Linked DNA regions of Homo sapiens: region 2 is linked to region 1. The links come from fine-mapping of genetic effects on gene expression. A gene starts in region 1. The other region holds a variant in brackets. All regions are shown on one strand. Distances are between the middles of the regions.

Evidence for each region.
Region 2: its variant is fine-mapped to the expression of CNGA4 in tibial nerve (GTEx, PIP 0.98).

What each region holds. Positions count from the first base shown.
Region 1 is chr11:6,234,805-6,242,872 of GRCh38, reverse strand. It overlaps CNGA4 (cyclic nucleotide gated channel subunit alpha 4), which reads right to left and starts at 3,784. Exons shown (of 6, transcript NM_001037329.4): 1 at 3,605-3,784; 2 at 3,388-3,489; 3 at 3,083-3,189; 4 at 2,162-2,807; 5 at 1,093-1,442. The coding sequence starts at 3,666. RefSeq lists enhancers at 7,823-7,902, 7,300-7,990 and a silencer at 8,033-8,068.
Region 2 is chr11:6,311,926-6,327,485 of GRCh38, reverse strand. It overlaps CAVIN3 (caveolae associated protein 3), which reads left to right and starts at 6,985. Exons shown (of 2, transcript NM_145040.3): 1 at 6,985-7,393; 2 at 7,922-8,540. The coding sequence starts at 7,010. The coding sequence ends at 8,323. It overlaps LOC101927825 (a long non-coding RNA gene), which reads right to left and starts at 8,345. Exons shown (of 7, transcript XR_930998.4): 1 at 7,789-8,345; 2 at 3,794-3,901; 3 at 3,451-3,592. RefSeq lists enhancers at 6,219-6,308, 6,339-6,398, 6,409-6,768, 6,979-7,028, 7,572-8,309. The variant G/A (reference allele first, on the strand shown) is at 7,351.

The sequences.
Region 1 (8,068 bases):
TGGGTGGGGAGATAGGTGAGGCTGAATGCTGCAAAGTCTTAGAGCTAGAAGGACCTTGGACAAGGGAAAGGGAGCTACTATTTGTTGAACACTTGCTGTATGCCAAGCACTGCGCTGGATGCCTCACTCACATAGCTCATTTATTCTCACAAATAACTCATTGGGTTTTTATTATTGTCCTCATTGGATAGGTGATTAAACTGAGGCCTAAATAGGGAAATGACTTGTCCAAAGTCAAACAGACAGCATCCTACCACATACAGGATGTGGAGCTTGAGGGGATCATTGGAGGACAGATGTGAGGCTTTCAGAATCCCTGAGGGTAGAATCCTCATGCTGAGAGAGCCAGAGCACATCCAGCTTCTCGGTCCATGACAGTGTGCTTACCCCATTTGCAGGATTTCCTGCTTGCACGACCTCATGCCTAATACCTGTGATTAGGCATAACAATTCCTACTGCACAGGGCTGATGAGAGGAAAAAGCAAGCCAGTAGGTAGTACCTGGCTTGGCCTAGAGGTGATGGTCAGTAAATGGGAACTTCTTCTCTTCTACCTTTCTCTTTCCACTTGGCTGTAAAAAGGTTGTTTTTTCCACTCATCCCACATGTGTATACCTGTGCGACGTTGGGCAAATTACCCAACTTCTTTGAGTTTGATTTCCTTATCTTTAAAATTGGGATAAGAATAGTACTTATCTTATAGAACTGCTGCGGGAATGTAATGAGTTAATATCATGTGAAGCACTTAGAAAAGGGGATGCAGTAAGCAGGTAATAAATATTAGCTATTATTATTATTATTATCTCTATCACTGTCCACTAGTCTATTGGTGCTTCAGGTGAATATCCACAGAGCAAGTCTACTCTCTCTTCCACGAACCCACCCTGTTCACTGGCCTTGGCTCAGCTTCTTCTCAGGGAATGGATCCTCTATGTGTTGTTTTTCTCCTGAGCCATCTAGTGACTCAGAGAAGGGCCAGGTTTCCTCAATCAGAAGTTTAGGCCTGAAGTACTATCTGGTCCCAGCACTGGGCTCTGCTGTTCCCCCCTACCCCACCCATCCTTGTCCCTGGAACAAATACTGGGATACCCACCTTTGATGTTGATGATGCTGATCTCCCCAAAGTAGAGCCCTGCACCGAGCACAGCATACTGTGTGATACCATCATCTGCCACCACGGCCAGTTGACCCTCTCGGATGATGTACATCTCTTGGCCAATGTCTCCTTTGCGGCATACATATTCACCTGGTGAGTAGGTCTGGGGCTGCAGCTTCAGCACCAGCTCCTCCAGCAGGCTGGCCTCACAGTTCTGAAAGATCTGCACCCGGCTCAGAGTGGACAGGTGCACAGACACAGCCACTTCTGCCCGCAGCCGCTCAGGCAAGTGCTGTAAGATGGCTACCTCGTTGGTCATCTTCTTGTTGATCTGCAGGTGCTGATACCTGAGAGTAAGGACAGTGCCATTTCCTTACCAGCCCTTTATGTGCCTGCCTCCATCCCTTCCTTCAGGGCTCAGCTCAGCTCCAGCCAAGAATCCCACCATACTGAGATCTAACAGGGGTCATGGGAGTACCTGACAGTTGGATTACCTGTTTTCCAGGGCATAGACACCTCTACCACTTTACATAACCCTTCACCTCCTATCAGGCTCTACCCTACCCACCAATCAGTGATGTCTTGTTCCACCCCTACCCTTAGCTACCTCAGCCACCAAGGGCCCCTCCTCTCTGGGGACCCTCTGCTCTACTTCCCCAACTTTGTGACACTTCCTTTTGTTCAGTCCACAGTATGAATCACCATAGGTAGCCAATGATCTTGTTGCTGACCATTCTCAGGGGGGATTGCCCTTCTTCACCCACTCCTTCCAGAGCCTTCTGAGCCCTACCAGGCAGTGGCACTTCCCATTCCCTGGTCTCCATATTATCCTTTTTTGAGTATGAGCTCCTCTCCCTATCAGTCTCTTACCTACCCCTCCCCCAAGTCCTGATTCCCTCAGTTGAAAGAAGTTCCCTTTTTCCAAGCCCCAGCCAGCAAACCCACGGCTGAATGCTACATTTTGACAGCCTTGCCTGGCTCACCAGGCACTAAGGACCCAGTTACCTCCCTCAGGTTCCATCACCTACACTGGTCCCTGTCCTGGTCTGGAACCCCGCCTTCTCACCAGTCAATAACTCGCCGCTCCAGCTTGCGGTTGACGTGCTGCAGCTTCATGTACTTCTTCACCAGTGCATGATCTGGGTAGAAAGCCGCATCTGCAGTGTTCATGTTGTAGATGACAGAGCTCATGCTACCCATGATGGTGGCGAAACCCATGACGGCCAGCAGGAAGTCGCCCACCATGAAGAGGTACTCTTCTTCCCTGGCTGGCGGCGGTGTATCGCCCACTGTAGTCAGTATCAGCGTGGAGAAGTAAAAGCTATAGAGGTACTGGCGCCGCAGGCGCTCAAAGCCAGGCTGCGCGGGGTCCGGGTACACCCATGCGTCACGCCCGAAGCCCAGGTACCGGGATAGGGCAAAGTATAGGCAGCTGTTCCAATGGATGACGACAAAAATGTAAAGCATCAGCTTGGCAATGCGAAAGGCATTTGGGTAAGCTGTGCGGGTCTCTGTGCGGTCGAAGGCCTCGAAGAGGCGGGGCGCGCGGAGAAAGCGGTTCAGCCTCAGGGTGGGTGTGTGCGGGCCCAGCCGCACGTAGACCACATCTGTGGGCATCAGGGAAGCCAGGTCCAAGAAGAAACTCCAGGTGCGAACGTAGCGACTCGAGATCCTACCCTTGTCCACCACCAGGATGCCCTGTTCCAAGAATCCTGGGGAGAGGGAGCCGGTAGGAAGCGGACCTGCTGTAGTCAAGCTTGGGCTGAGCATGAGCTGCCCAGGGCAGGCCAGGGAGACTGTCTGAAGGACAGAGTGGAGCCAGGCATAACTCTGCTCCCGGCTTTCCGGGGTGAGCACTGGGATGCTGTCAGGCATAGAGGCACGCGAAGGTGCTACCACGGTGGGGGTGCCTTTCTTGTTACTTCTTAAGTGGCTATCTTTAGGAAGGGAATGTGGGACAAAGGGTCATTCCTAGAAGCCCACTGACCTGTGTGGAAGCGCACCACCATGTCTAGTAGGTATAGCAGGTCACTCGTGTAGTCCAGCACCAACCAGGCCACCAGATAACCGTGCTGCAAGTCGGGGAAGCAGGCTCTGCAGGGCAGGGTTAAGCATGATTGAATTAAGGGCACCCTCTGTGTGCGAGGCGTCTCCCCAGGGCCCTTAACCCTCTGCCTCAGGCCCTCCCATGGGAATTGCTCCTCCTGCCCCACCAAGGGTCTGCCCTTCTCCTTGACCTCTCTTTAGTCCTCTTTTTGGCTTCCAGCCCCTCCCTTAGCACCGCTGCCATACCTGCACACGAGGATGATGAGGTTATACATGACTGGGAAGACCATTGTGTTCAGCCACCAGTAGTAGTAATCCCCAGATGGGTCCAGGACAGGCAGCAACTTCCTGTAAGAAAGAAAGTCTTGCTTCATTTATTCACCAGGCATTCAAAGCTGTAGTTGTGACTGGGGCACCAAGAGGAATGAGGAGAGATCCCACACAAGGGACCAGGACTTCTCACCTGGCCTTGGATGGGGCTGGGGGACTGGACTCTGTTGTCTTCACTTTGGTGTCCTGGCTCATGGTTCTGTGGTCTGGTGCTGGGGTGTGAGATGTCCACACCCTCTCTGCCTGTAGGGGACTTCTGGAGTTGGGCACTAGTGCCTGACTGCCTGAAGGAGGCTGCTGTTGGGCTTCTGCTGTGACTTCTTTGTCTTTGGGGCTCTTAGCAACACAACCAGAGCTAGCGCTACTGAAGGGGTGGAGACAGTCTAGCTCTAGCACTCTGCCCTGTCTCCCAGGGCCTGGGCTTACACCTGCCCAGCTAAACACCTCTAATGAGATCCCTGGAGAAGGTGGGGGTGCATGCCTCAGAGGGAAGCCTGAGTCTTGTCTCTGTTTTCCTCCTCCCCTCTTTCCACAGCAACTGAGCTACATAGGTGTCCTCTGGGTCAGAAGACCTCAGTTTTAGTGTAGGATCAAACACTCTGTTTTATCTTTGCAAATTCTATTTGGGCCTCACTATTTATTTATTTAACAACTATTACTGAATGGCTTATCTATGTCAGGTGCTAAACTATTCTCCAGGGACAAAGAGATGCCTCTCACATGAGAAGTGAGCTCTATTTTTGTAACCTACTTCCTACCCTTATCTACCTCCACATACGCCTTCCCCCATCACACCATTCTCATAGGTAGTGTGATAGGGGCCATCCTATGGTGCTTTTGTCCTCATATCCTTCTTGTGACTTCTAGTGCCTGATCCTACCAACCATTCCATGTGTTTTATGGTCCCCAATCTTTCAACTTTTCTCTTTTTGTGAACCTGCTTCAATATCTCCTATATCAAAACAAACAAAAACCCTACAATTTCTCCCTCAACCTGATGTTCCTTTCACTGCTATCATCTTTCTCAGTCAACAAATCAAAATCAGAACACCCATAGGCAGGTGTTCTGTGTGCCAGGCCAATATTGTGCTAAATACTAGGAATTGGAGATGAATAAGACACGCTCCCCCTTCTCCAGAAGCTCACAGTCTGCTAGGTGAAATAGTCAGGCCAGCAGGTAATTACACATGAGGTAACTAAACAGCAGCAGTCATTGCCAGGCTGCTGATGAGTACTCTGTTAGCTGGATACACGGAAGGCTATTATAGTACACATGAAGTGGCCCTACAGAGCCTGGGTTCTGCAGGATGAATAGGAGTTGGGTACAGAGATGGGAGGGTGAAGAGCACTAGAGGCAGAATGCACAGAGTGGGCAAAGGCATAGAGATATCAAAAAGCGTGGGTGACTGGGCAAATATCAATTGGCTTATTTTAGAGGGCCTAGCGGGTAGTGGTGAGAGATGAGGTTGAATGATAGACAGAGGCCAGCTCAGGAGGAGTTCTGTCAGCCATGTTATAAAGCTTGGATTTTACCCAACGGCAATAGAGAACCTGTGAAGAGTTTTTCACAGTTCAGTGATAAAATCAGGTTTGTGTTTTTGGAGTGTGTTTTAGAAGAAAAACCTGTGGTCCCTAATTAAATTTTGAAAAACTCTCTTTTCCCATGGCTTCTTAATTTCTTTTTGCAAAGTATTACGCTTGTTAAAATAAAAAGACAACATTCAAAGTAATGCAACAAAATGAATAAAATCCTTTGTAATGCCATAATGTCTTGGTTTGCTGTTTCTTTTTAGTGTCTTTCATAAGCTCCTCTGTCTATTCCTTCTATGATGGTGTTTTTTTTTTTTCTTGGATTCTGTTCTAGGCTTTCTACTTTTGCCATCCTCCTAACTCTGTCTGATTGACGTCAGTCACCCACAGGACTTCCTTTCTCATATAGTGGCTCCCGAGAACTCTCCCTGAGTTTCAGTTATCTATATGACTAACTGCTCACTGGATGTTCCTACTTGGGTATCCCGCGGTCACCTTCAACCCATTGGGTCTATAACTAAGCTCATTATCTTCCTCCACTTTTTCTTCTAGAATTCCTATCTATGCCCTTTCAGCAAAAAAACCTATGACAAGCATTTATTACTATTTACTGTATAATGTTGTGGCAGTTAAAAAAAATGGTCACAAATTCTTCGACACCACTCCCTTGTGATAGTTTGTATAGCAGGAGTGATGTTGTGTGACTTCTAAGGCTAGATCATAAAAGGCCATGCAGCTTCCCTCTGGTTCTCTTGGAATGCGTGTTGTCTGGTAGCTCCCTCTCAGAATGTTCCCTCTTGGAACCTACCCATCACATTGTGAGAAGTTCTGTTTGACAGTTTGCCCAATGAGTTCAGCTTTTTCATTATCCCAGCCCAGGAATTAGATGTGTGACTGAAGAAGCCTCCAGATGCTTCCAGCCACCAGCCTCAAACCACCTCTAGATGTTCAAGCTTTACAAATAAGGCCCCAGACATCATGGAATAGAGACAAGCCATTCCTGTTGCATCTCGTCCAAATTCCCAGAATTTGTGCACATAATAAAATGGCTATTGTTTTTATGACACTAAGTTTGGGTTGGTTTGTCACATAGCATAGTAACCAGAACAAACAAACACAGAGAAAGGTGTACAATCCTTAAGTATATAGCTTAATACATTTTCACAAAGTGAACACACCCATATAACCAAGCACTCAGATCAAGAAACAGAACATCACCAGTGCCTCAGGAGCCCCACTCTGCCCCTTTCAGTCAATGTTTTTCCAAGAATAATCACTATCCTGAATTCTAATATCACAGTTTAGTTTTACCTGTTTTTGAATTTATATAAACTAAGCATTAGTTTTTAATTCTTCCTCTTATTTTCCTCTTATATCCACCCAATCATCAAACCATGGTGATCTACCTTCTAAAAATCCACATGTCCACTTCTCTGCATTTTTGCTACTCTAGTTTGGGCCTTATCAGCTTGTTTGGTCTTTTGCAAAGTTACTGTATAACTATCAATCTATGTATAAAATTCTTTATAGCTATCATCCCAAAAATAAAATCTAAATTCCTTAACATGGTTTATAAAGTTCTCCAGTCCATGTCTTCAGCCTCATCTCACAATGTTTCCTCACATGTTCCCTAGGCTCCCGACACACTGTACTGATTGCAGTTCTTACAGCACCTCCCACATGCTGTCCATTCTTCCTTTCCCTGGTATATGCTGATCCTTTGGTCTGAAACTTCTATTTCTTTTTAAATACTTTTTATTTGAACTAATTTTAGGCTTACAGAAAAGTTGCAAAAATAATACAGAGTTCTCATAAATTCCTTATCCATCTTCCCCTAACGTTATGATCTTACATAACTATAGCACAATGATAAAAACCAGGTATTTAACATTGGCAAAATACTTTTCTTTTTTTCTTTTCTTTTTTTTTTTTTGAGACGGAGTCTCGCCCTGTCGCCCAGGCTGGAATGCAGTGGTGCGATCTCGGCTAACTGCAACCTCCGCCTCCCGGGTTCAAGCGATTCTCCTGCCCCAGCCTCCCAAGCAGCTGGGATTACAGGCGCGCGCCACTACGCCCAGTTAATTTTTGTATTTGTAGTAGGGACGGGGTTTCACTATGTTGGTCAGGCTGGTCTCGAACTCTTGACCTCGTGATCCGCCCGCCTCGGCCTCTCAAAGTGCTGGGATTACAGGCGTGAGCCACCGCGCCCAGCCGGTAAAGTACTTTTAAAACTACATGCCTTATCTGAAACTTCTATTTTTCTATTTTAGTTTATCTTACTCTTGCTTGTTTCCCAAGACTCGGCTTAGACACCGTCACCTCCCGGAAGTCTTCCCTAAGCTCCTTCACCGTACCTTCCTCTCATCCTCTATACATGCAAATCATGCTAAGTGCTGCTCCTAGGTGGCCCCCGTAGTAATGTACTTATTACACTACGCTGCAATTCTCTGAGGTCCTGGAGAGCAGAGGCCGGTTCTAATTGATCCGGAATCCAGCTGGGCATGCAGGCACTTATTCCGTGTTCCTTGACTAAGTGCTCAAGGGGTGACGGAGCAGCACAGCACAGCGGTGTTGGGGGAGCCAGGGGCAGTCACCGCTGGGGTACTAAAGTAGAGACCAAGCTATGCACGACGATGGAGCAAAATGAACTAGAGTGCCCGCAGTCAGCCCTCTCTAGGGCTCCACTTTTCCGCAGGCCCGGCCCACCTACTGATTCCTCCTCTCTTTTCGTGATAGCCTCGCCCCTCCACACCCACTCTTCCACTCCAAGCGTCTCCTGGAATCCATGGCCCCACCCCTTTCTCGCTCGTCTTTCTTCCGGCTCCATCTCTCCCAAGCCCCGCCCTTCTGATCTTTCCCTGCCTGTAAAAATCGCCTCTCCTTAGGTCCCGCCTTCTGCCCTCTGGTTCCACCTTTCCTTCCCGGGCTCCGCCTCCGCCCTGCCGGCCTCCACCTTCCCAGAGGCCTTCGCCTATGACACGCCGGAGTCCTTCTGAGGGGCGGGGTTTACGTACGAAGGGACGGAACCAAGAGGAGAGGCGGTGCTCCTCCCTCGGATAGCCGTCGG
Region 2 (15,560 bases), 81 kb before region 1:
AGCCCGTGGTATTCAGTTATAGCAACAGAAAATGGACTAAGACACTATTCAACATACTAAAATATGAGATACAAAAATAGTCATTTGAGTGAATAATGTGCGTGATTCTTGCTATAAAAGGCATCCCTAAGCCTACTGGTCATAATATACCATTCCGAGATCTTCCATCCATTTGGATATTTTGATTTCTGGAGTCAGTACAAATTCACTTCCTGATGCCTCAAACTTATAGCTATTGTAACTGCCAGGGGCACAGAGCTCCCTCATTGTGTGGAATGGTTTTACCTCTTCCGTAGACAGGATGTCTATGACAAAGGGTGGAAGGTAGTGCCTGTCTACTGAGGCACATTGCCTGTTAAATGAGTGGTCTGTCTGTGCCTCACATTGTTACTTTTGATTTAAAGGTTAGTGCCTGGAGGATGCATCAGTTTTTCTGGGCAGATGAAAGTGAGGGTCCTGGTCAGGGATATTTCTTTGGTAATGAGCTCACATAGATGTCTCTCATCCTTTCTTAGATTTTGATTTTTCTATTTAATAATCAAAGACTGTTAAGCTCTATTGCTATGTAAGACAAAGGGTTCCAATTCACAAAACCACTCAGCAACCTCTGTCGAGTCTCTCCTCTAGTACTATTATTCCCCTCCAGTAATCAGCCAGCAATTGTTTTTCAAAAGCAGTACAATTCTCAGCTGCTAAAAGCATTCCTTAGTCAAAAATCCTAAATACTTATGCTGTATTTTCCCCTGTAGGATCTGCCCTCCTCCCTCCCTGACAAATCATCTTGGTGGAAGAGGTAGAAATCACAGAGACTTCAGGGTCTCATTTTTCTTTCTGACTTGTAGGACCCAAAGGATAGAATTGACCATACTGTGGCTTGTAACTTGCCAGGGTTAGTCACTGAGGCTTCTCTCAATCCTACTGAAAGTATGTAGCCTTTTGGAGGACTCAAGATATAGAGTGTGTGAAAATTCCAAGGTGAAGCATTTGCTGACTCTAACACCTCCCTCTGTTCTTTGTTGCAGTAGGAGGTGTTACATGTTTCACTACCTGTCCTGAGTTTAAGCACTACTATTCTAGGTAATCCCTGTCTGCTGGATTTCTGGTGGATGGTCTCTGAACCCAGTGGGACAGACTCATCCTCTTGGGTATGATGTGAAGAATGGCAGTGCCTTTGTCACTTTTGTTTTAGGGGATCTTGGCAACTTCATATAGTGGGGCACCTGGCAACTGAAAGAAGAAGGAAAACAAAGATGCAGAATGATACCATCTAAGGCACTATGATCTGATCTGTCTTTTTCAGAGATTTCCTTAAAGCGAAAGGAGCATCCAGCTGTTCTTGAATAGGTAGAGACAGAGGGCCACCCTTAAGCAGATCTTTGTTAGGCAGATATATTTCAGACAGCCCCAGGCCTGATGAAAGGTGTAGTGGATTTGTTTCTCCTTAGTACAGCCAACTCTTCCTCATAGTAGGCTGTGCTCTGGGGAGGGGATGGGCCAGTATATAAATGGAACCCTTGACAAACAGGATGGGTAATACCTTTTAGTTTTTTAAAGCAGTTGTTAGCTCAACTACCATAGTATTCCACTCATTTTTGCAAGACTCATTACATCTGGGCAACTATTGGTTTGTCTGTGTTCTACTGTGAGTCTTCAGGTTTTATTAACTTTTCCTACAGAGACTCTAATACTTTCACATAATTGGGGAAGCCATTTGCAGGAGCATCCTGGGTAATGGGATACTGTAATACTGATATTGATTAATCAAAGTTGTTATTAGTTTTCCAGAGCTACCAAAACAAAAAAAGTCACAAACTAGGTGGCTTAAAACAACAGAACTTTGCTGGGTGCAGTGGCTTACACCTGTAATCCTAGCACTTTGGGAGGCCAAGGCAGGTGGATCACTGGAGGTCAGGAGTTTGAGACCAGCCTGGCCAACATGGTGAAACCCTGTCTTGTCTTTACTACAAATACAAAAATTAGCCAAGTGTGATGGCGGGCACCTGTAGTCCCAGCTCATCAGGAGGCTGAGGCAGGAGAATCACTCAAACCCGGGAGGCAGACGTTGCAGTGAGCTGAGATCATGCCATTGCACTGCAGCCTGGGCGACAAGAGCAAGACTCTGTCTCAAAAACACCAACACCAATGCCAGAAACCCCATAAATTTATTCTGTCATGGTTGTGGAGGGCAGAAGCCTGAAATCAAGGTGTTGGCAGGGGCATGTTCCTTCTGAAGCTCCTAGGGAAGGATCCTCCCTTGCCTGTTTCGGTTTCTGGGGCATTCCTTGGTTTGTGGCAGCTAACTCCAATCTCTGCCTCTGTTGTCACATGGTGTTCTCCCTGTGTATCTCTTCCCTCTCTTATAAGGACACCAGTCATATTGGATTAAGGGCCTACTCTACTTCATTATGGCCTCATCTTAATTATATTTGCAAGATTATATTTCCAAGTAAGGTCATATTCATAGGCACCAGGGGTTAGGACTTAAATATATCTTTTTGGGGACACAAGCAACCTGCGACAATAAGTTTCCACTTTTCATGTCCATACCATGGGGTATGAGAGAGTAGATGCCAGCCACACCCCTAGTTTAGAGAATTTTTTTTTTTTTTTGAGACGGAATTTCACCCCTGTTGCCCAGGCTGGAGGGCAACGGCACAATCTCAGCTCACCACAACCTCTGCCTCCTGGGTTCAAGTAATTCTCCCATCTCAGCCTCCCGAGTAGCTGGGATTGCAGGCATGTGCCACCATCTCTGGCTAATTTTGTATTTTTAGTAGAGACGGGGTTTCTCCATGTTGGTCAGGCTGGTCTCAAACTCCCGACCTCAGGTGATCCGCCCACCCTGGCCTCCCAAAGTGCTGGGATGACAGGTGTGAGCCACCGCATCTGGCTAAGAATAGAAATTTTTAAGACCACTGCCTTAGAGGTGTTATAAAGTTTTTTAATTGGGAAGCCATCAGGCTGAGATGGCTCCACCACATTTGATTCCTACATAAGCAAACCAAAGCCCAATGTAAAAAGTAAAAGAAAACTAGGGACCTTACCAATCAGAAACCACCAACTAACCTCTAACTAGGGGAATTTCCATATTAATGAATCAAATATATTTTCTTTGTCTTACTTCCATGTTCAGCCTATAAAAGCTCACTGCCCACACTGCTGCAGCTGAGCTCTCTGAACCTCTTTTGGCCTTGAGTGCAGCCTAATTTATGAATTGTTCTTAGCTCAAATAAACCCTTTAAAATTTTAAGGTTCGTAAGTTTATTTTTGAACAGAGGGCATCATTCTGCATCTTTCTTTGTTTTCTTCTTTTCTTACCCTTTTTGGAAACTGCAATACAGTTCTTCCTTGGATACTTTATAATCAAGGTCACTCTACTACAATTTCTGTCAATCTCTGCATTATTGACTCAGGCATTCTTCTAGCTGGCCCCAAGTTATTTTTACTTACCTCATGGCTTCCATTTTCCACTATCAGCCAGTTCATATGGCTTTTAAACTTGAGGCTTTGGGGAGACTGGTAGAACCATCATTGGCTTTATTGTTAAGTTTAAGGTCCTCCTTGTTCCAGATATCCAGAGAGGGAGTTAGTGCTACAGGAGATGGAAAAAAATTAGGCAGATAGTGAGGGCAAAAGAGTCCTCAGCAGAATTTCCCTTTTAACAAAAATCAGCCCCCAAATCATTTCTTTTCTAACAAAGAACAGCCTGAAAAATCAAGCTGCAAACATAGATAAGCAAGCTGGAAGCCTGCAGGGGTGAATGCCAGCAGCTGTGTCAATAGAAAAGGGCTACCTGGGGGCCAGGTATGTTCAACATGGAGGCTCCATCTTCCCTTTTCTTTGTCACCACAGTTACAGTAAAGAAACAGGCAACATGGCACTGGCCAGGTAGAGAACCCATCTGCAAAATAAAAGATTAGGGTGGGGGTGGCCATCTTTTTGTGCCTATACAAATGGCATACCTAGCCCTAACCAGTTTTTTGAGCTGTATGCAAATGACACACCTGGTCCAACCAATCTTTTGTGCCCTATGTAAATGACACACTGCCTCCTTAAGGTCATCTATAAAATCCCTTGCATTCCACGGTGGAACCAGCAACCCATTTCTCTGGGACCCCTCTCTGCTGCAGAGAGCTCTTCTTTTTCTTTTGCCTATTCAACTTCTGCTCTGAACCTCTTTGTGTGTCCATGTCCTAGTTTTCCATAGCTGTGACACAACCAATCTCGGGTATTTACTCCAGACAACAATGCCACTTCATTACCAGGTTTTAAAAAAATATCTGTCTATGCTGGGCGCGGTGGCTCACGCCTGTAATCCCAGCACTTTGGGAGGCCAAGGTGGGCGGATCATGGGGTCAGGAGTTCAAGACCAGCCTGACCAACATGGTGAAATCCTGCCTCTACTAAAATTACAAAAATTAGCTGGGCGTGGTCACGCGTGCCTGTAATCCCAGCTACTCAGGAGGCTGAGGCAGGGGAATTGCTTGAACCTGGGAGGCGGAGGTTGCAGTGAGCCAAGATCGCGCGTTTGCACTCCAGCCTGGGTGACAGAGCGAGACTTGGTCTCAGGAAAAAAAAAAAAAATCTATCCAAATCTATCCAAGTATCTATGCAAGTACTTCTTACTTCCAAATGCACTGAATTTCCTTAGCCCCACTCATCAAAGCTGGTGATTCTTTCATAGGCTTCCTGTAATATTAATATCCATTCCCAGTAGTACCCAGATTTTTGTACAGATATCCACTTTTCCTCCCATACCACCCTAATACTCCTGGGGAAGCTGAATCTACTCTACTTCAGAATTGATCTAACTTGTCAAAAGCCAATTATTAGATTTCTTGTCAGTGATTGTTTAGGGAACATAGGCCTAAACCCATCAATGCATGTCATTTTTGTAGCCATAGAATTTGGATTTGGAAAAGCCATGTAACCCAGTGGAAGGCAAGTGTAAAAATTCTGGGAGGCTTCTGGGAAATAAATGTCCTAAATTTTAAGATGGTCCCCTTTTTTTTTTAAGATCTTGTGCAGAGTTGTGAGGCCTGGAATGAAGCTGACACCTGTGCGTATGTGGGCACATACACATGGGTAGGGGGTGTGTGGGGGACATGGGGGAGTGTGAGAGGTGCGGGATGGGGCTCATAGTTGAGCAGTGGAGAGAACTGTAGAAAACCAGATTTGGAGCTGTGAATGACTCACACTTAATCACCACTCTACCAATCCTCTTTTTCAATTATGTTTGAATTGAGTTTCCTGTTACTAAGTACTGTTTGAATTGAGTTTTTGTTCCCTCAGTCTGAAAGCATTTTAACTGGTACATCCCTGATGGATCTCTCTGGGTAAATGTAGTTTCACTGGAAGAGATGGTGATTCCCACCAGATTCCCAAGAGAGCTTATTTTCTCTTGTATTAAGCAGCAGGGGTCAGGCTTATGGCCTTGTATTTGTAGAAATCAGCCATCAGCTTAGCATCACCAGATTTCTGGCATTAGCTGCCCACGTCTGTGGCACTTCAGGCCCATGTAACTATTTCCAGAGTGACACAAGTTTCTTCCACAGTTGTCAACAAGTGGCCCTCACAGGTTCAGTGAGAAGAGGAAGAGGGAGAGAGATCATCAGGATTAATGGATTACTTGCATTTGTGAGACGGTTTGCCAAGTATTGCTACAAACAAGGCACGGGATTTTCTTTTTTCTTTTCTTTTTTTTTTGAGATGGAGTCTTGCTCTGTCCTCCAGGCTGTAGTGCAGTGGAGCAATCTTGGTTTACTGCATTCTCTGCCTCCCAGGTTCAAACGATTCTTCTGCCTCAGCCCTCCCGAGTAGCTGGGATTACAGGCGTGTGTCACAACGCCCTGCTAATTTTTGTATTTTTAGTAGAGACGGGGTTTTGCCATGTTGCCCAGGCTGGTCTGGAACTCCCTGCCTCACGTGATCCTCCCCCCTCGGCCTCCCAAAGTGGTGGGATTACAAGCATGAGCCACCGCGCCCGGCTAAGGCATGGGATGTTTCGAACTGCTGACATTAGAAATTCACAATCCACATCATTAACTGGATCCTCCATGCCCACTCTCTCCCTCTCTGCAGCAGCAATTTCAAATCTTTACTCTCCGCAGTTCCACAGAACACAAGAAACAAACAAACAAGCAAAAAAAGTCAGGCAGGAGCCCAAGTAACCTCTATCAAAGCAAAGACCAGTGCCTAGTCTAACGCTTTTAAGGATTTTAAAAGAGGTGAAGGTGTCCTGCTTATCCTCCAAGCTTGGGTGCTGGGGCCGGGGCGGCTGAGATTTACCAGTGAAACCCAAAGAAAGAGAGGGCAGAAAACTAGAGAAAAGAAACCAGATAATGCTACCCAAGAGGACGAAATAAAGAAGCAGGAAACGAAGCCTGAGGCTAAACCCTGGAGATGACTATTAGGAAAACACCAGAGGATGCCCCGCCCGCCAGCCCACAATGAGCAGCCTGTCCAAGTCACAAAGCGGGGCCTCGGGCCTTGACAGTTCGCGATCTGTAAGCAGAATGTTCCAGGGCCTCCCTGTCGCCTGCATCCAGCCTGGGGGCAATCTTCACTGGTGTGGGAGGCCGAAAGTGGACGGCGACGGAGGCCCCTCTGGTTATCTCTTTGCCGTGCCAACACAGTCTCTGCGCCCACTAAGATGCATGAAATAAAAATTTCCGTGACTCGCCCTTTGCAGTGGAGAACTGAAACAGGCACACCAGGGAATTGGAGCGGAGGAGGGTAACTCAAACTCAGAGTGAGAGGGTTTGCAGGGGGCCGATTTGGGGCCAACAGGCTTCCCAGCAGGCCCCCGGCGCGGGACAGCGGAAGGCGAAACGCTTTCAAGAGACCCCGCTGCCAACATCCCCACGCCCTCGCGCCCTCCCGCCGCCCCAGAAGGCCAACTCCGCCTGCCTGAGTCACAGCTGGAGCTGGGGAGGAGCCAGGGAAAGGAGGCCCCTGACCGTAGTGCGGCCAGCAGTTGCAGGCAGACGGAGCAGAGCGGTCAGGGATCATGAGGGAGAGTGCGTTGGAGCGGGGGCCTGTGCCCGAGGCGCCGGCGGGGGGTCCCGTGCACGCCGTGACGGTGGTGACCCTGCTGGAGAAGCTGGCCTCCATGCTGGAGACTCTGCGGGAGCGGCAGGGAGGCCTGGCTCGAAGGCAGGGAGGCCTGGCAGGGTCCGTGCGCCGCATCCAGAGCGGCCTGGGCGCTCTGAGTCGCAGCCACGACACCACCAGCAACACCTTGGCGCAGCTGCTGGCCAAGGCGGAGCGCGTGAGCTCGCACGCCAACGCCGCCCAAGAGCGCGCGGTGCGCCGCGCAGCCCAGGTGCAGCGGCTGGAGGCCAACCACGG[G/A]CTGCTGGTGGCGCGCGGGAAGCTCCACGTTCTGCTCTTCAAGGTCAGTGACCTCAAACGGTCCCCAATCCGAGGCCTTTGCCGGCCTGTGGGCCACCAGCTGGGGGCTCCCCGCTTCCATCCACCTACCACACCCACATTCCTGACCCCTCCCGCCGTCTGTTGCTGTGGAACAGACTCACAGAGCCGCACCCACTTCCCAAGACCCAGCCCCATCCCTCCCTCTCACGCCTGAGCCCCGCCTGGCCAATCCAAGCCCGCCCAGCTCTAGCTCAGGCCACGTCCGCAGAATTTGGTCTGAGTCCCAGCCAATCCCTAAAATAACGGTGGTTGAAAGGGCATTCCGTGACTGCGGGCACTATCCTCTTCTCGCCCCTCACCAGGCCTCACCTACTTTACAGCGTTTTGCAGTTCGCACGCAGCTTTCCCTCCCCTTACCTTCCCACGCCTGCCTTTCCCCCCAGACTCTGGCTGCGGAGGTAAAAGGTTTCCCTTGTGTAATTAAGGAGTGAGTTTCGGGCTGCTGGGGGTAAGGAGCTGCCAGGATCAGTGCTGTGTCCGTCACATGCAGGAGGAGGGTGAAGTCCCAGCCAGCGCTTTCCAGAAGGCACCAGAGCCCTTGGGCCCGGCGGACCAGTCCGAGCTGGGCCCAGAGCAGCTGGAGGCCGAAGTTGGAGAGAGCTCGGACGAGGAGCCGGTGGAGTCCAGGGCCCAGCGGCTGCGGCGCACCGGATTGCAGAAGGTACAGAGCCTCCGAAGGGCCCTTTCGGGCCGGAAAGGCCCTGCAGCGCCACCGCCCACCCCGGTCAAGCCGCCTCGCCTTGGGCCTGGCCGGAGCGCTGAAGCCCAGCCGGAAGCCCAGCCTGCGCTGGAGCCCACGCTGGAGCCAGAGCCTCCGCAGGACACCGAGGAAGATCCCGGGAGACCTGGGGCTGCCGAAGAAGCTCTGCTCCAAATGGAGAGTGTAGCCTGAGGGCTGGTGTTGCCTGCCTCCCCTGTGCTTGTGCCTTGTCCCAAAATAAATCCTTTCAGAATGTAGCACTCACGCCCTAATAAGGAGCGAATCCTACATCCACCAAGGCGGGCGCTCTGGCCCTCCCTTCCTTAAGCCCAGTCCTGTGTCCTCTGAAAGAGGTGCAGTCACTCACACCTGCTTGCGCTCACCATCAATAAAAGTAATTTCACCCGAACCAGACTCCGTGAGAAGGGATGGGGAAGCGGTTGGATGTGGGAAGGCAGTTACAAGGAATAAGACAAATGTTGGAACCTGGAATCGTACAATTTCTCCAGTTTCCACGGAGTCCTGGGTTCTAGCCTCCAGTGACACATAGAAATATCCTTCTGACCACTTGCTCTTTAAACACTTTCCTCATGGGAACACACAGTTGCAGTTTTTGTTGTTGTTGTTTTTGTGTGAGTGTGTGTGTGTGTTTTTTTTTTTAGCATCCAGTATAGTCCTTGCTGTAGGTGCTTACTCAGTGTCAACTAATGGTTTTCCTCTTAGTCTTTTCTTTCCTTGGCACCTCCTAAAAGTTGAGTTTTCCAGGATTCCTTTCTTGGCCCTCTTTTTACTCAGGGTACTTTTCGGTTGACATTCATGCCTAGGCCTCCCCTACCAGCTGCGTACACCCCATACCACTGTCTTGAGCCACAGTTGAAAAGTGCTTCAAAAGTAGCAAGTATCTTCTACCTTTTAAATTCCATTTCGTTCAACAGCTATTTATTGAACACCTACTATGTGGCAGGCCCTACTAGGTATGGTTCAGAATATTTCCCCCTCTTGTGTTTTCTTTACCAATGATGACAAAAAAAATCAATATACCATCATCCACAGAGAAACTTGGGAGTCCTTGTCGGCTCAAGGACTTTCTCTCATCCCCCTCCCACATGGAAACAGCTATTCTAATGATTTTACCTCTGCAATCTGTCCACTTTTCTAATACAGCCGCTGCCTTATTTCAGGCCTTTCACTTGACCGGTATTTGAACTGCCAATCTCATCACATCATTCTTGATTCAAATATTTCAGTGTCTCCCCATTATCTTCAGAATAAAGACCAAGCTCTTTATAATTATTTTCAAGGCCCTTTGTGATCTGGTCCCTGCCTATTTTTGTAGCCTCATCTCTCACCACTTCCCCTTGTGCTACCATTGAGTCACACTGAGCTCTGTGCTCTCACTGTCATCCCTGCTATCCTGCCAAACTCAGTAAAGCACACCTGTTTCAGGGCCAGGTATTTCTCTTCCTTCTCTCAAAGCACCACTTGCACACCTCTAGTGCTAACTGCACTGATTGTGAGGATTTGTGGTTACGCCCCCTCCGATCTACTAGATTGTGACTCTCTTGCAGTAGGGACAGTTTTATTAATTTCTGTATTTCCCACACCAAATACTGTGTCTGGCACACGGTAGACCTTCTTGAGGGGCTGAGGAGAGTTCCCTGCTGCAGTAAAGCAAGAATATTACAGAAGGGGCTGGGCACGGTGGCTCATGCCTGTAATCTTAGCACTTTGGGAGGCCAAGGTGGGTGGAGGACTTGACCTTGGGAGCTCAAATCCAGCCTTGGCAAAATGATGAAACCCCATTTCTACAAAAATTACAAAAATTAGCTGGATGTGGTGGCTTGTGCCTGTAGTCCCAGCTACTTGGGGGGCTGAGGTGGGAGGATCACTTGAGCTCAGGAGGCAGGGGTTGCAGTAAGCCAAGATCATGCCACCGCCCTCCAGCCTGGGTGACAGAATGAGACCATGTTTCAAAAAAAAAAAAAAAGGAAAAACAAAAAACTGGAAGTGGGAGTGGTGGTTAAGGATGAGGAGCACAGTCACCTACTCCTTCATTCAGTCACTATCATATAACAACGTTTTTAATACCTACTTTGTTCCAGGCCCTATGCTAGGTCTCATGAACACCTTGGGGAGCTCGGGATTTAGAGGGAGATACCATCACCAATTGTAATGAATGATGGTTACATGTAAGTTATTTTGAGAGCAAATGGGGAAGGGGCATGACCCAACCTGAAGGAGGAAAAGTGGGAGATATATAAGGAATTGTTCTTGGAAATGGTAAATAGTGAGATGGAAAACAGGAATGGCAAGGGGCAGTAGAGCTCAGCGGTGGGTAGTTTGGGTTCTCTGTTCCCTTATCTATAAAATGAGATAATTATAGCCCCTTACTTAGATTGTTGGAAAGATTAAGTGACATAAATCAAGTGCCCAGCACATTGCCGGAGTATAGTTTTTGCTCCATAAGCTTCAGGTATATAATTTATTTGTCCACTCATTCAACAAATAACTTACTGAACTCTTAGGGTCTTCCAGGTGCTATTTTAAAATCTGAGAATACTGCCAGGCGTGGTGGCTCACATCTGTAATCCCAGCCCTTTGGGAGGCTGAGGCGGGCAGATCGCTTGACTCCAGGAGTTTGAGACCAGCCTGGCCAACGTGGCGAAACCCCGTCTGTACTAAAAATACCCAAAAAGTTAGCCAGATGTGGTGGTGCACACTTGTAGTCCCAGCTACTTGGGAGGCTGAGGCACCAGAATTGCTTAAGTCTAGGGGGCAGAGGCTGCAGATTGCACCACTGCACTCCACCCTGGGCAACAGGGCGACAGTCTGTCTCAAAAAATAAAATAATAACAAATAAAGTAAATAAAATAAAATCTGAGGATACAGTGGCACATAAGAAAGAGAAGATCCATACCTCTATAGAGTTAAATTCCAGTAGGAAGAGACAGGTAATAAATAAGTAAACATGTAAGCCAGATAAAACAAGTAAGCACATGAACCACAAGGGCATTCTGGTTATGAGCTCTGAAGAAAAAGAAAACAGACTAAGGATACAGATAAGGTTTGTGGGGGTGTTCTTTAGATAAGGACACTGGGGAGTAATATTGGGACCAGAGTTACACGTATGAATTACTCCTTGACACTTGAGTTTGAGTGGTGTCACATTTTTATTTTCATGGATTCAATAAGAAGAGTTTAAGCCCCCACATGCCTGCCATGCTGTTGGGAAGTTGATGATTAGCAATTTTAGTTATCTTCCCGTTTTCGAGACTGTGCAGTACCAGGGGGCTCATACCATCTCTCAGCCTTTGCATGTCTCTGCTGCCCTTGCTCCTTATGACCACACGATGTCAGTGTCGGGGAGCCAGTGTCCTCGTTGGTGCCTCCTCTAATTACCCGGAGGTCAGCCTGACCGGCAATATATTGGGGACAGTTAGGGTAGAGGAGGTGTAGCGGGCAGGGGTCCTTCCATGGAAGGCGGCTCTGCAGTAGCTCCATTTGGTCTGGGGAAATTCAACCCTTCTCCTGCAGGCTCCCAACCCTGGTGCTCAGACTGTGCCCCTTTCAAGGTTTGGCCGTCTCAATGGGACTGGTATGAGCAGACTCAGTTCTCTGTCCCCAAGGAAAAATAAATTCTTGTTTTTTCAAATTCCTGGAAATCTACTTGATTTTCCCCTTTCAACCCACAATTAGAATTAAGAACTAAGTGTGCATTTTCCGTATAAAACATCTTGACCCCTAGAAACCCAAAGGCTTGACTAATTTTGCAAGGGAAGGGTATATTAATGTTTATTTCTTCCTGAGTTGTCTATAGCAGCAAATAATAAGATCAAGTTAAAACAAAATTAGTTAAATTTCTTCATAGCTCATTTTGTTATATTATGTTCTCCATTATCACTGCTGGTTGTTATTATTAATATTGTTAAACATTAATGGCCAGGTGCAGTGGTTCATGCCTGTAATCCTAGCCTTTTGGGAGGCTGATGTGAGTGGATAGCTTGAGGCCAGGAGTTCAAGACCATCCTGGGTAACATGGTGAAACCCTGTCTCTACAAAAAAGTTTAAAAAAAAATTAGTTGGGCATGGGGGCACACCTGTAGTCCTAGCTACTTGGGAGGCTGAGGTGGGAAGATTGCTTGAGCCCAGGATTTTAAGGTTGCAGTGAGTTATGATCATGGCACTATACTCCAGCCTGGGTGACAGAATGAGACCTTGCCTTTAAAAAAGTAAAATAAAGGAAGTGGAGACAATGACAGAATACCAACTTGTCATCCAGCACATGTGGCATTTAGCAGCTATTTAAGCAGACGGAAGGTACATTAGTGGATCATTAACATTCACTTTGGCTTTCAACTTTTCAGGCCAGAAACACAAATTTATCTTGCATTCCAGCAAGATTAGGCTGATCTGCAATAACTGCACTCAGAAAACACTGATTAATTTGATTGCTGGATTCATTAATTTCCCGAAGAAATCTAATGGCCAAGTGACTGGAATAGTCTAGCTAGCTATTCAAAACATTTTTCATCCTTCAACAAAGTCTACATGGGAAGCCAAAGTAAGATCTTAAACTAGGTATAATGCAATAGAATAGTAGAAACTGGATAAAGATAATGGGCAGGATAATCTAACATAATATGCCCACTTTCTGCTTTGACATGCCTCTTACATGGGCAAAAATATATACATTCCTGGCAGGAAACTTCTTCCCTAGTTAAGAACTAGACGTCCTTTTGATTTTCCTTTATTGTGAGCAGAGGAATCATATAACCTCAGCATTGAAGAGAACGCGAATGCTGTCTATTCCACAAGCATTTCCAACACTAAAGTGTTCTGTACTGTCTTGACATCTATCCTTGTGGTTTCAGATATTTCTTAGTTTCATCAAAGGCAGACAGAGTTTGCATTCATGGTCTCTTTTCTATTTTAGAATTATTTTTAACATGATGGTGGAAAGCACAGTCTTTATTCAGTCATTTTAAAACAAGAGTCCAACAATCATCCCCTACCCCCGGTCCTGTGAGATTGAGCTTAATTATTCTGATAGTTATTTTCTTTAATCCATAACCTGTGTCTTAAGCATGGACATTTTGTTAGGAAGTCTGGTTTATTAGAGAAGATAGGTTTGAGATGATCCCCTATTATGAGTCATATTGTTTCTGGACTTCTATAGATCTTCCTCTCTCCAACACAGAATGAAGACAGAGCAGTCCAACCCAATTTAAACAACTCCTTTTATTTCACAGAGACTCATGGACTAGACCATTCTAAAGTAATGTGGATTATTAAATGTAGCATTAATTTTATGATATCATTATTACTTCCTGTATTCTTTATGTATTTACATGCCTGGTTTATTCTGATTTCTTTACCCACTTTCCCCAACAGTCTACCTGTTTTGCCCTAACCTTTAGATATCTCTAAATCTGGCTAGTCAAAATGTATTTTAATACTCTTAAACTTAAAAAAAATTACAAATGTACCCTTCTTATGTTTGCATACCATTTGAAATTGTTAACATCTGTGTTGACCAACTCTCCGAATGTTTGATTCAGTTAACTTGATCATTATTCCATAATTTTGTAAAGCTAATTTGAAAGATACATATCTTACTTTTTAGTATGATTTCCCTTCTCCTACCTTTCATTTTTAGAATAGTTATGAATTCATGGCTCTTTTTAAAGACTGAATTGGTATCAATTGCTGGCTGGTAGGTTTTCTCCTGATGCTTACCTGTCACTTCTTGGTATATGGGAGCTCTTTTCAACGTGTTTTTTTTTTTTTTTTGCTATGATTTGAGTGTGTCTCCAAAAATTCATGTGTTGGAAATGTAGTCCCCATTGCAACAGTTTTGGGAGGGAAATGAGGCCTAATGGGAGTTGTTTAGGTCATGAGAACTCTGACCTGTCAACCTAAATAACAAATGGAGAGGAAGACTCTCTAGAAGAAAATGATGTTTATTTGGGAATAGGCGTTACAATGGGAATGTGTATGTCTTCCACAGTAAATTATGTATATATTCAGGAGGTAAAGGAAGACAAAGGTTTTTAAAGGAAAAATGAGGAGGATTATATAATTGTTCTGAGATAATTATTGTTGACTACAAGGATTAATAACAAAGGTGGTGCCAGTCCAAGATTGGACAGAGAGTTGCTAGGCAGATGTCCTCTCAGAAGCATTATTATTATTATTATTTTTGAGATGGAGTTTCGCTCTTTTGCCCAGACTGGAGTGCAATGGTGTGATCTCAGCTCATCGCAACCTCTGCCTCCTGGGTTCAAGCAATTCTTCTGCCTCAGCCTCCTGAGTAGCTGAGATTACAGGCACGCATCACCATGCCCGGCTAATTTTGTATTTTTAGTAGAGATGGGGTTTCTCCATGTTGGTCAGGCTGGTCTCGAACTCCCGACCTCAGATGATCTGCCTGCCTCGGCCTCCCAAAGTGCTGGGATTACAGGCATGAGCCACCGCGCCCGGCCAGAAGCATTTTTTTTTATGTGTAAAGTTGTGATGGCTTTTGTGCAGGCTGTGGTTTTGCAAAGTCTTTTGTGATATCAAGAATTCGTGCACAAGAATCCCTCCTTCATACCCTTCCTCAGCTCTATTTGTCAGGGTTTTTAACACAAGTGACTCCATTTTGATTTTGACAATTTTCATAGCCCTCATGAATGGATTAATGCTGCTATAAAAAGTGCTTGTGGGAGTGGGTTTACCCCTTTCTGCCTTCCACCATGTGAGGACATAACAAGAAAGTCCTCACTAGATGACAGAACTTTGATCTTGGACTTTATAGACTCCAGAACTGTGAGAAACAAATTTCTGTTCTTTATAAAGTACTGAATCTCAGGTATTCTGTTATAGCAGCACAAAACAGACTAAGCTTTTTTGTCTTTTTTTTTTCTTAAATACTTGAATCATCTATGGAGGTATTCTTGTTTTCTTGTTACAACAGTCTATTCCATACTTATCTTGATTTTCTAGTATGTGGCCCAAGTTATCTGGTGATACCTTCTGTGGCAAACCAGCATAAGACCCAAGTCTGATTATTGAGTAGATTATTTCCCATGCTTCCACTGCGGGCAGGGTGACATCAACAGCTGCTTCAAATGTTCTTATGACAATCAGAGTCTTTTAGAATCATGAGTTTATTCTGATTTTTTTTTTTCTTCTTAATCGAGACAGAGTCTCACTCTGTTGTCCAGGCTGGAGTGCAGTGGCACAATTTTGGCTCACTGCAACCTCCGCCTCCCAGGTTCAAGAGATTCTCCTGCCTCAGCCTCCCAGGTAGCTGGGATTACAGGTGCATACCAGGACGCCCAGCTAATTTTTGTATTTTTAGTAGAGACTAAGTTTTGCCATATTGGCTGGTCTTGAACTCCTGACCTCAAGTGATCTGCCTGCTTGGGTCTCCCAAAATGTTGGGATT